Regions from separate parts of the Homo sapiens genome. Here all the other regions are linked to region 1. The links come from fine-mapping of genetic effects on gene expression. A gene starts in region 1. Each other region holds a variant in brackets. All regions are shown on one strand. Distances are from middle to middle. Region 1 holds the start of PIK3CB (phosphatidylinositol-4,5-bisphosphate 3-kinase catalytic subunit beta). Region 2 overlaps PIK3CB (phosphatidylinositol-4,5-bisphosphate 3-kinase catalytic subunit beta). Region 3 overlaps PIK3CB (phosphatidylinositol-4,5-bisphosphate 3-kinase catalytic subunit beta).

What was found. PIP is the estimated chance that this variant, and not a neighbour inherited with it, causes the effect. A credible set is the group of variants that fine-mapping cannot tell apart.
Region 2: its variant is the best candidate, but not a certain one, in a credible set for the expression of PIK3CB in whole blood (INTERVAL, PIP 0.85).
Region 3: its variant is the best candidate, but not a certain one, in a credible set for the expression of PIK3CB in monocytes (Quach 2016, PIP 0.72).

The regions. Positions count from the first base shown.
Region 1 is chr3:138,833,221-138,835,979 of GRCh38, reverse strand. It overlaps PIK3CB (phosphatidylinositol-4,5-bisphosphate 3-kinase catalytic subunit beta), which reads left to right and starts at 1,052. Exons shown (of 24, transcript NM_006219.3): 1 at 1,052-1,285. RefSeq lists a silencer at 816-1,555.
Region 2 is chr3:138,784,316-138,787,074 of GRCh38, reverse strand. The region is part of intron 2 of PIK3CB (phosphatidylinositol-4,5-bisphosphate 3-kinase catalytic subunit beta); the gene reads left to right. Among named protein-coding and RNA genes, the nearest start is that of PIK3CB, 49 kb to the left of the region's middle. The variant C/T (reference allele first, on the strand shown) is at 1,395.
Region 3 is chr3:138,810,309-138,813,067 of GRCh38, reverse strand. All of the region lies in intron 1 of PIK3CB (phosphatidylinositol-4,5-bisphosphate 3-kinase catalytic subunit beta), which reads left to right. Among named protein-coding and RNA genes, the nearest start is that of PIK3CB, 23 kb to the left of the region's middle. The variant G/AG (reference allele first, on the strand shown) is at 1,636.

The sequences.
Region 1 (2,759 bases):
GCCAGGCGTGGTGGCGCATGCCTGTAATCCTCAGGAAGGCTGAGGCAGGAGAATCGCTTGACCGGGGGACGCAGAGTTGCGGTGAGCCAAGATCGCGCCATTGCACTCCAGCCTGGGCAACAGTAGCGAAACTCTCATTCAAAATAAGTAAATAAATAAAAAATAAAAAAACTAGGATCATTTCTCAAATAAACTATTGGTTTGTCACTTAATTGATTTGTCACGTTTGCTTTTTATTATGTTGTACTTCTAGATTTTATCCCTGACTACTCAACTATTTGTCCAGGGTAATATAGGAGCATTACGTTAGAATATACTAGCTTTGGAGTGAGTTAAAATGTTGGTTTTCAGTAAGTAAAATTTAAGTGTCCCACTAGAAAGAGGACTGTGATTTTTCGCGGTTGGGGTCAAAGGTAACAGGAAACAAGGTAGGCAAAAAGGGGTAAAGTTTAAGGCTCTGCAGACAAATGTTAGGTGTTGTTACTGCAAAATTGAACAAAGAACAAGAATCTTGGGCTTGAAAGCCTGGACTTTTCCCTAGAAACAACCATTCACAGTGTAGGGACTGAAGGGCCAGCTGTGAGGCAGCCGAGCTAGCGCCCTATCCTCACAAAGGGAGTGAAAGACGGAGACGGGTATCGGGAAAAAAATAAGTGCTGCGTCCAAGAATTTAGGAGTCAGTCCATGTCGCAGAACAGGGAGAAGGGCTGGGAAGAAAAGGCCAGCAAGGAACCTAGGAAGAGCGGAATCTCTCGGGAGGAGGTTATGGAGGCCGCAGCGGGTGATGGGTCTCTCCTGAAGGCGACTTGCCGGGGATTCCCTATTCCGCAGTCCTCTGGGAGTCGCAAAGAGAGTTAGGAAAGGCCGTGCAGCAGCGTCGCAGCCGGGCTGGCAACGGTAGAGGAATCGGCAGTGAGGCCTCTCCCCACACCCTGCCAGCCCAACTGCCGCCGCCGCCGCCGCCGCCACCGCGGGGCCCGGGATTGGCCCGAGGGCGGCGCAGGGCGGGGCGGGGGCTGCTGGGATGCAGGCCTGAGAGGCTGGCGCGCGCGCACACGGGCGCGGGTTCGGCGGCGGCGCGCGCGTGCTCTGTCGGCCTGTGCGGCGCTGCGGCGGAGCGGGCCATGGCAGTGGGGAGGGGGCGAGTGTAGTGCTGCGCGGGGCAGGCGGGAGGTGATCGAGAGAGGCAGGGATGGGGGCGCCGGAGTGGAGCGGTTGCGGCGGCCTGGGCTGCTGACTGCGCACTTGGAATAGTAGCAGGCGGCGGCGGCGGAACGCCAGGCAGGTGAGTGCGGCGGCCGGGACCCGGATGCGGCGCGGCTGAGGGGCGGCTGGGTCGCGGCGCCGGCTGCGGTGCCCCCGGGCGTGCTGGCGGTGCGTTCTAGCTTGCCGCTACCTGCGGCGCTGGCGACTCTTGTGGTTGCACCGCGCTTCCTGCCAGCTTGGAGGATAACCGCCTACCGGCCGGTGGGGGCGTCTGGCTTGGTTGCGGCCCGCCCTGGGCTCTCCAAGGTGAGTGGCGCCCCCCGGCCCCTGGGCGGCAGAGACGCTGCCGGGCGTCCCGGGTCACTGTCGCTTTGGGTCCCGTTCCTGAGGGGCGTTTCTGTGGAGAGACGGCGTACTCGCGCCCCGCGTCTATGCGGACACCTCCGGAACTTCCCGACCCTCAGGTGCCTTTTTGCGCAGAAGTGTATTTCAGAGGCGTGGACCCAGGGTTATTAGGTTATGGACATGTTTTCGAATCCCAACGCCGCTGCTGACCAGTCCTGGGGCCTTGGGCCAAAATATCCTGATGTGTTAAATGGAAATAATAATACATACACCATAAGGTTGTTGTGAGGTTAGGCATAACTGAACAAGTGCTAAGTAAATGATACCCCTGCTGCAGCATCTCGTGTTAGCTATTGCTAATTCCTGGCTGCTGGCGTGCGTTTGGGGGCACATTTATTTCCGATCTGCTCTGGTGTTGCAGTAACCGATACTGGAGTTGCTTAATATTGGAGCCTGTTAACCTCGCAGTGGCCAAAATAGAATCCTATAGTCCCTTACTAGAATCCTGCAGTCTCTTCCCGCAGGGCTGAATTGGAACCCTGTCTCAGGTACTGAGTGGGAATTACTGCTGAAATGAAACCGAGCAAATTCGGGATTCGCTTAGGATGAAAGATGGTGGGACGTAAACTTGAAGTGCTTTGCTGTTTCATCTCAAGTGACACTTGAACTCTGCCACTTGTTACAGAGTTATAAACACACGAAGAGTATGGAAACAGACTCTTTTTTCTGCATTGCTACATCCAAAGGGAGTGACAAGTGCTTTTGTAAACATCATTGTGGGCAGTGTGACTGTCTGGTGAAGTCATGATAATTAAATGAGTACTTATTTTGAAGCACTGAATGGAAGTTTGGAGATATGATTCGTAATAAAATTGTCTCCAACGAGTCAGAGGTCTCAGCAGTTCATTAATCATTTGGGGATTTTTATGCTACATTGTAAGATTTTATGGTAAAAGCAGAACTGTTTAAGTCATAATAATGTAGCACAGGAAAGGGTGGTCAGATAAGGATCTTAACCCAGTTTCAGAATGCAGGTATGGAAGAAAGTAAAGTCTTTTTTCTGACCAGGTGCGTTGGCTCACGCCTGTAATCCCAGCACTTTGGGAGGCCGAGGCGGGCGGATCAATTGATTCCAGGAGTTCGACACCAGCCCAAGCAACATGGTGAAACCCCGTCTCTACCAAAAACACAAAAATTAGCAGGGCGTG
Region 2 (2,759 bases), 49 kb after region 1:
ACGCAGTTAGAAAAAATGTTCATAAAGATGATATTGTTGAGTGCTTACTGTTTCTGGTCCTTTGATAATGTGGTGTGCTTTTTACTTTTACACAGAAAATAACTGTGGTCAGATTGTCATGCAGTTTGCCATAGACAGTAAGGATATTGTGAAAGAAATTCTGGCTGTCTGCATAGCATGACCTTTCAAAACTGTTTTCTTTGCTGCAAGCATTTCACTTAGCCTTTTGACTGCCACATGATAGAGGAAGTAGTACATAAAGGGTAATATAAATGGCTGCCTTGTTGGTCTCAATACTGTTTTTTAAACCATGTTAAATAGTCACATGTTATTAAATAGTTTTATGTGGAGGATTACCAGTTTTATGCATAGTATAGTACATTTTAAGTATAATTTTATAAAACTTATAGTATTTAAAATTTAAATACAGGCTGGGCACGGTGGCTCATGCCTGTAATCCCAGCACTTTGGGAGGCCGAGGTGGGTGGATGACCTGAGGTGAGGAGTTCGAGACCAGCCTGGCCAACATGGTGAAACCCCATCTCTACTAAAAATCCAAAAAATTAGCTGGGCATGGTAGTGCGTGCCTGTAATCCCAGCTACTCAGGAGGCTGAGGCTTGAACCTGGGAGGCAGAGATTGCAGCGAGCCAAGATCGCGTCATTATACTCCAGCCTGGGTGACAAGAACAAGACTCCATCTTAAAAAAAAAATTAAATAGAAAATCACATTATTTTCAAAAAGGACCTAAACTTTTTATTCAAAGTTTTAAGGATTATTAGTGAATGGAGATTATTATATATAGCTCATGACTACAAATCTGTAATTTTTGTGAGGAGACATTTTTAAAGCAACCTTTGGAGCTCTCTTTCTGCTGCTTCTGAGCACCCAGGAGAGACTGTTTTCTTTAACACTGTGAAGAGAACTGGGGAAAATGAGGAAGCTCCAGCCTGATTTTATTTTACTTTTATTTTATTTTATTTGAGATGGAGTCTTGCTTCATATACTCCAGTAAATGTGGTCATGCTATATATATTCTTTTGTTTCTTTTAACATTGTTGGTAAGGTTCATTAATGGTGATGTGTGTAGCTGTATTTTATTCATTTTTCCTATTGTAAACTATTATTTATTGATCTATTAATGTACATTAGGATTATGCCTAGTTTTTTGTTACTATGAAAACTTTCACCTTAAACATTCATGTGAATGTCATATCCTCAGATAAGCATTTTCTTTTTTTTTTTTTTTTAAGTATTTATTGATCATTCTTGGGTGTTTCTCGGAGCGGGGGATTTGGCAGGGTCATAGGACAATAGTGGAGGGAAGGTCAGCAGATAAACATGTGAACAAGGGTCTCTGGTTTTCCTAGGCAGAGGGCCCTGCCTGCTTCCTTC[C/T]GCAGCGTTTGCGTCCCTGGGTACTTGAGATTAGGGAGTGGTGATGACTCTTAAGGAGCATGCTGCCTTCAAGCATCTGTTTAACAAAGCACATCTTACACCGTCCTTAATCCATTTAACCCTGAGTGGACACAGCACATGTTTCAGAGAGCATGGGGTTGGGGGTAAGGTTATAGATTAACAGCATCCCAAGGCAGAAGAATTTTTCTTAGTACAGAACAAAATGGAGTCTCCTATGTCTACTTCTTTCTACAGAGACACAGTAACAATCTGATCTCTTTCTTTTCCCCACATTTCCCCCTTTTCTATTCGACAAAACTGCCATCGTCATCATGGCCCGTTCTCAATGAGCTGTTGGGTACACCTCCCAGACAGGGCGGCGGCCTGGCAGAGGCGCCCCCCCACCTCCTGGAGGGGGCGGCTGCCGGGCGGGAGCTTCCCCCCGCCTCCCTCCGGGACAGGGCGGCTGGCCGGGCGGGGGCTGCCCCCCACCTCCCTCCCGGACGGGGCGGCTGACCGGGCGGGGGCTGCCCCCCATCTCCCTCCCGGACGGGGCGGCTGGCCGAGCGGGGGCTGCCCCCCACCTCCCGGACAGGGCGGCTGCTGGGCAGAGATGCTCTTCACTTCCCAGACGGGGCGGCTGCGGGGCGGAGGGGCTCCTCACTTCCCAGACGGGGCGGCTGCCGGGTGGAGGGGCTCCTCACTTCTCAGACGGGGTGGCCGGGCAGAGACGCTCCTCACCTCCCAGACGGGGTGGCGGCCGGGCAGAGGGGCTCCTCACATCCCAGACCATGGGTGGCCAGGGAGACGCTCCTCACTTCCCAGACGGGGTGGCGGCCGGGCAGAGGCTGCAATCTCAGCACTTTGGGAGGCCAAGGCAGGCGGCTGGGAGGTGGAGGTTATAGCGAGCTGAGATCACGCCACTGCATTCCAGCCTGGGCAAGATTGAGCACTGAGTGAGCGAGACTCCGTCTGCAATCCCAGCACCTCGGGAGGCCCATGCGGGCAGATCACTCGCGGTCAGGAGCTGGAGACCAGCCCAGCCAACAGGGCGAAACCCCGTCTCCACCAAAAAATACAAAAACCAGTCAGGCGTGGCGGCGCGCGCCTGCAATCCCAGGCACTCCTCAGGCTGAGGCAGGAGAATCAGGCAGGGAGGTTGCAGTGAGCCGAGATGGTGGTAGTACAGTCCAGCCTCCGCTCGGCATCAGAGGGAGACCGTGCAAAGTGGGAGACGGAGACGGAGACGAGAGGGAGAGGGGGAGGGGGAGGGAGAGGGAGAGCCTTTTTTTGTTTTTTGATACAGAGTCTCTCTCTGTTGCCCAGGCTGGAGTGCAGTGGCGTGATCTTAGCTCATTGCAACCT
Region 3 (2,759 bases), 23 kb after region 1:
GAATCCATTATCCTTTACCCATAATACTCCAGTGGTAACATCTTGCATAACTATGGAAAGATACCACAGCCACGAAACTGACTTGGCTATAGTTCATATATCTTACTCACATTTCACCAGTTTTACATTCACTTATTTCAGTGTGTATTTAGGTCATTCAGTTTTATTATATATATAGATTTGAGTGACCACCACCACCGTAAAGTCACAATAGTTCCATTACAAGAGTCTCTCATTCTGGCTGGGTGTGGTGGCTTACACCTGTAATCCCAGCACTTTGGGAGGCTGAGGTGGGTGGATCACCTGATGTAAGGAGTTCGAGACCAGCCCGGCCAACATGGTGAAACCCCATCTCTTCTAAAAATACAAAAAATTAGCTGGGCGTGGTGGCACATGACTATAATCCCAGCTACTTGGGAGGCTGAGGCAGGAGAATCGCTTGAACCCGGGAGTCAGGGGTTGCAGTCAGCTGAGGTCATACCATTGCACTCCAGGCTGGGTGACAGAGTGAGACTTCGTCTCAAAAAAAAAAAAGCCAGGCACAGTGGCTCATGCCTGTAATCCCAACACTTTGGAAGGCTGAGGTGGGCGGATCACGAGATCAGGAGTTCAAGACCAGTTTGACCAATGTGGTGAAACCCCATCTCTACTAAAAATACAAAAATTAGCCAGGAGTGGTGGCGCGTGCCTGTAGTCCCAGCTACTTGGGAGGCTGAGGCAGGAGAATCGCTTGAACCCAGGAGGCGGAGGTTGCAGTGAGCCAAGATCGCACCATTTGCACTCCAGCCTGGGTGACAGCGAGACTCTGTCCCCCCAAAAAAAAAAAAACCTCTCATTCTACCTTTTTATAGCCCCAGTCACCTCCCTCCCACCCTTTCTAACCTCTGGCAACCACTAATCTGTTTTTTATGATTTTGTCGTTTCGAGAATGTTATATAAATGAAATCATCTAGGAGTTTGGCTTTTTTCTTTTTTTAGAGATACGGTCTTGCCCTGTTGCCCAGGCTTTAGCATAGTGGTACGATCATAACTCACTGCAGCCTCAAACTCTTGAGCTCAAGCAATCCTCTGGCCTCAGCTTCCCAAGTAGCTGAGAATTACAGGCATGTGCCACTACACCCAGCTAATTTTTTAAAATTTTTGTAGAGACAAGGTTTTGCCACAGTTCCCAGGCTGGTCTTGAACTCCTGGGCTCCAGTGATCTTCCTGCCTTGGTCTCCCAAAGTGCTGGGATTACAGGCATAAGCCACCATGCCTAGCCTGTTTTTTTTTTCAGTCAGCATAATTCTCTGAAGATCCATCTAAATTGTTATGTTTATCTGTAGAAATTTTCTTGCATATCAGGGCCGGGTGCAGTGGCTCACACCTGTAATCCCAGCACTTCGGGAGGCCGAGGCGGGCGGATCATGAGGTCAGGAGATCAAGACCATCCTGGCTAACACGGTGAGACCCCGTCTCTACTAAAAATACAAAAATTAGCCAGGTGTGGTCGCGGGCGCCTGTAATCTCAGCTACTCAGGAGGCTGAGGCAGGAGAATCGCTTGAACCTGGGAGGCGGAGGTTGCAGTGAGCCGAGATTGCGCCATTGCACTCCAGCCTAGGCATCAAAGTGAGACACTGCCAAAAAAAAAAAAA[G/AG]GTAATTTTCTTGCATATCAATAGTATAGTTACCACATTTAGAAAACTTAACATTGGTATTGTTACCTAATATATAGTTTATATTCCAATTTTACCAATTATGTATTTTTTTCCCACAATAATATTTTTTAGTTGTCCTTAGTGGTGCCATGACAGTGTCTTAGACTTTTTTTTTTTTTTTTTTTTTTTTTTGGCAGAGTCTTGCTCTGTCACCCAGGCTGTAGTGTAGTGGTGCAATCTCGGCTCACTGCAACCTCTGCTCACTGCAACCCTCGCCTCCCAGGTTCAAGCGAGTCTCCTGCCTCAGCCTCCTGAGTAACTGGGATTACAGGCACGCACCACCATGCCCAGCTTATTTTTGTATTTTTAGTAGGAACAGAATTTCGCTACGTTGACCAGGCTGGTGTCAAACGCCTGACCTTGTGATCTGCCCATCTCGGCCTCCCAAGAGTACTGGGATTATAGGTGTGAGCCACCGCGCCCGGCCGACATTTATTTATTTATTTATTTTTTGAGACGGAGTCTCGCTCTGTCGCCTAGGCTGGAGTGCAGTGGCACGATCTCGGCTCACTGCAAGCTCCGCTTCCCGGGTTCATGCCATTCTCCTGCCTCAGCCTCCCGAGTAGCTGGGACTACAGGCGCCTGCCACCATGCCCAGCTAATTTTTTTTGTGTTTTTAGTAGAGCTGGGGTTTCACGGTGTTAGCCAGGATGGTCTCAATCTCCTGACCTCGTGATCCATCCACCTTGGCCTCCCAAAGTGCTGGGATTACAGGCGTGAGCCACCATGCCCGGCCCAACATTTCTTGTTTTTGATGACCATGACAGTTCTGAGGAATACTGGTCAGTTGTTTTGCATAATGTCTTTCAATTGAGTTTTTCTGATTTTTTTTTTTTTAATGATTAGACTGGAATTACGGGTTTTTGCGAGGAAGACCACGGAAGTAAAGTGCCATTTTTCTGACATGATATCAAAAGTATATACTAAAAAATGAATTATCGTTGTTGATGTTGTCCTTGATCAGCTGGCTGAGGTAGTTTGTTAGGTTTCCCTGCTATAAAGTTACTCTTTCCCTCTCCTTTTCATATTATACTTTTTGGAAGGAAGGCACTATGTGCAGCTCA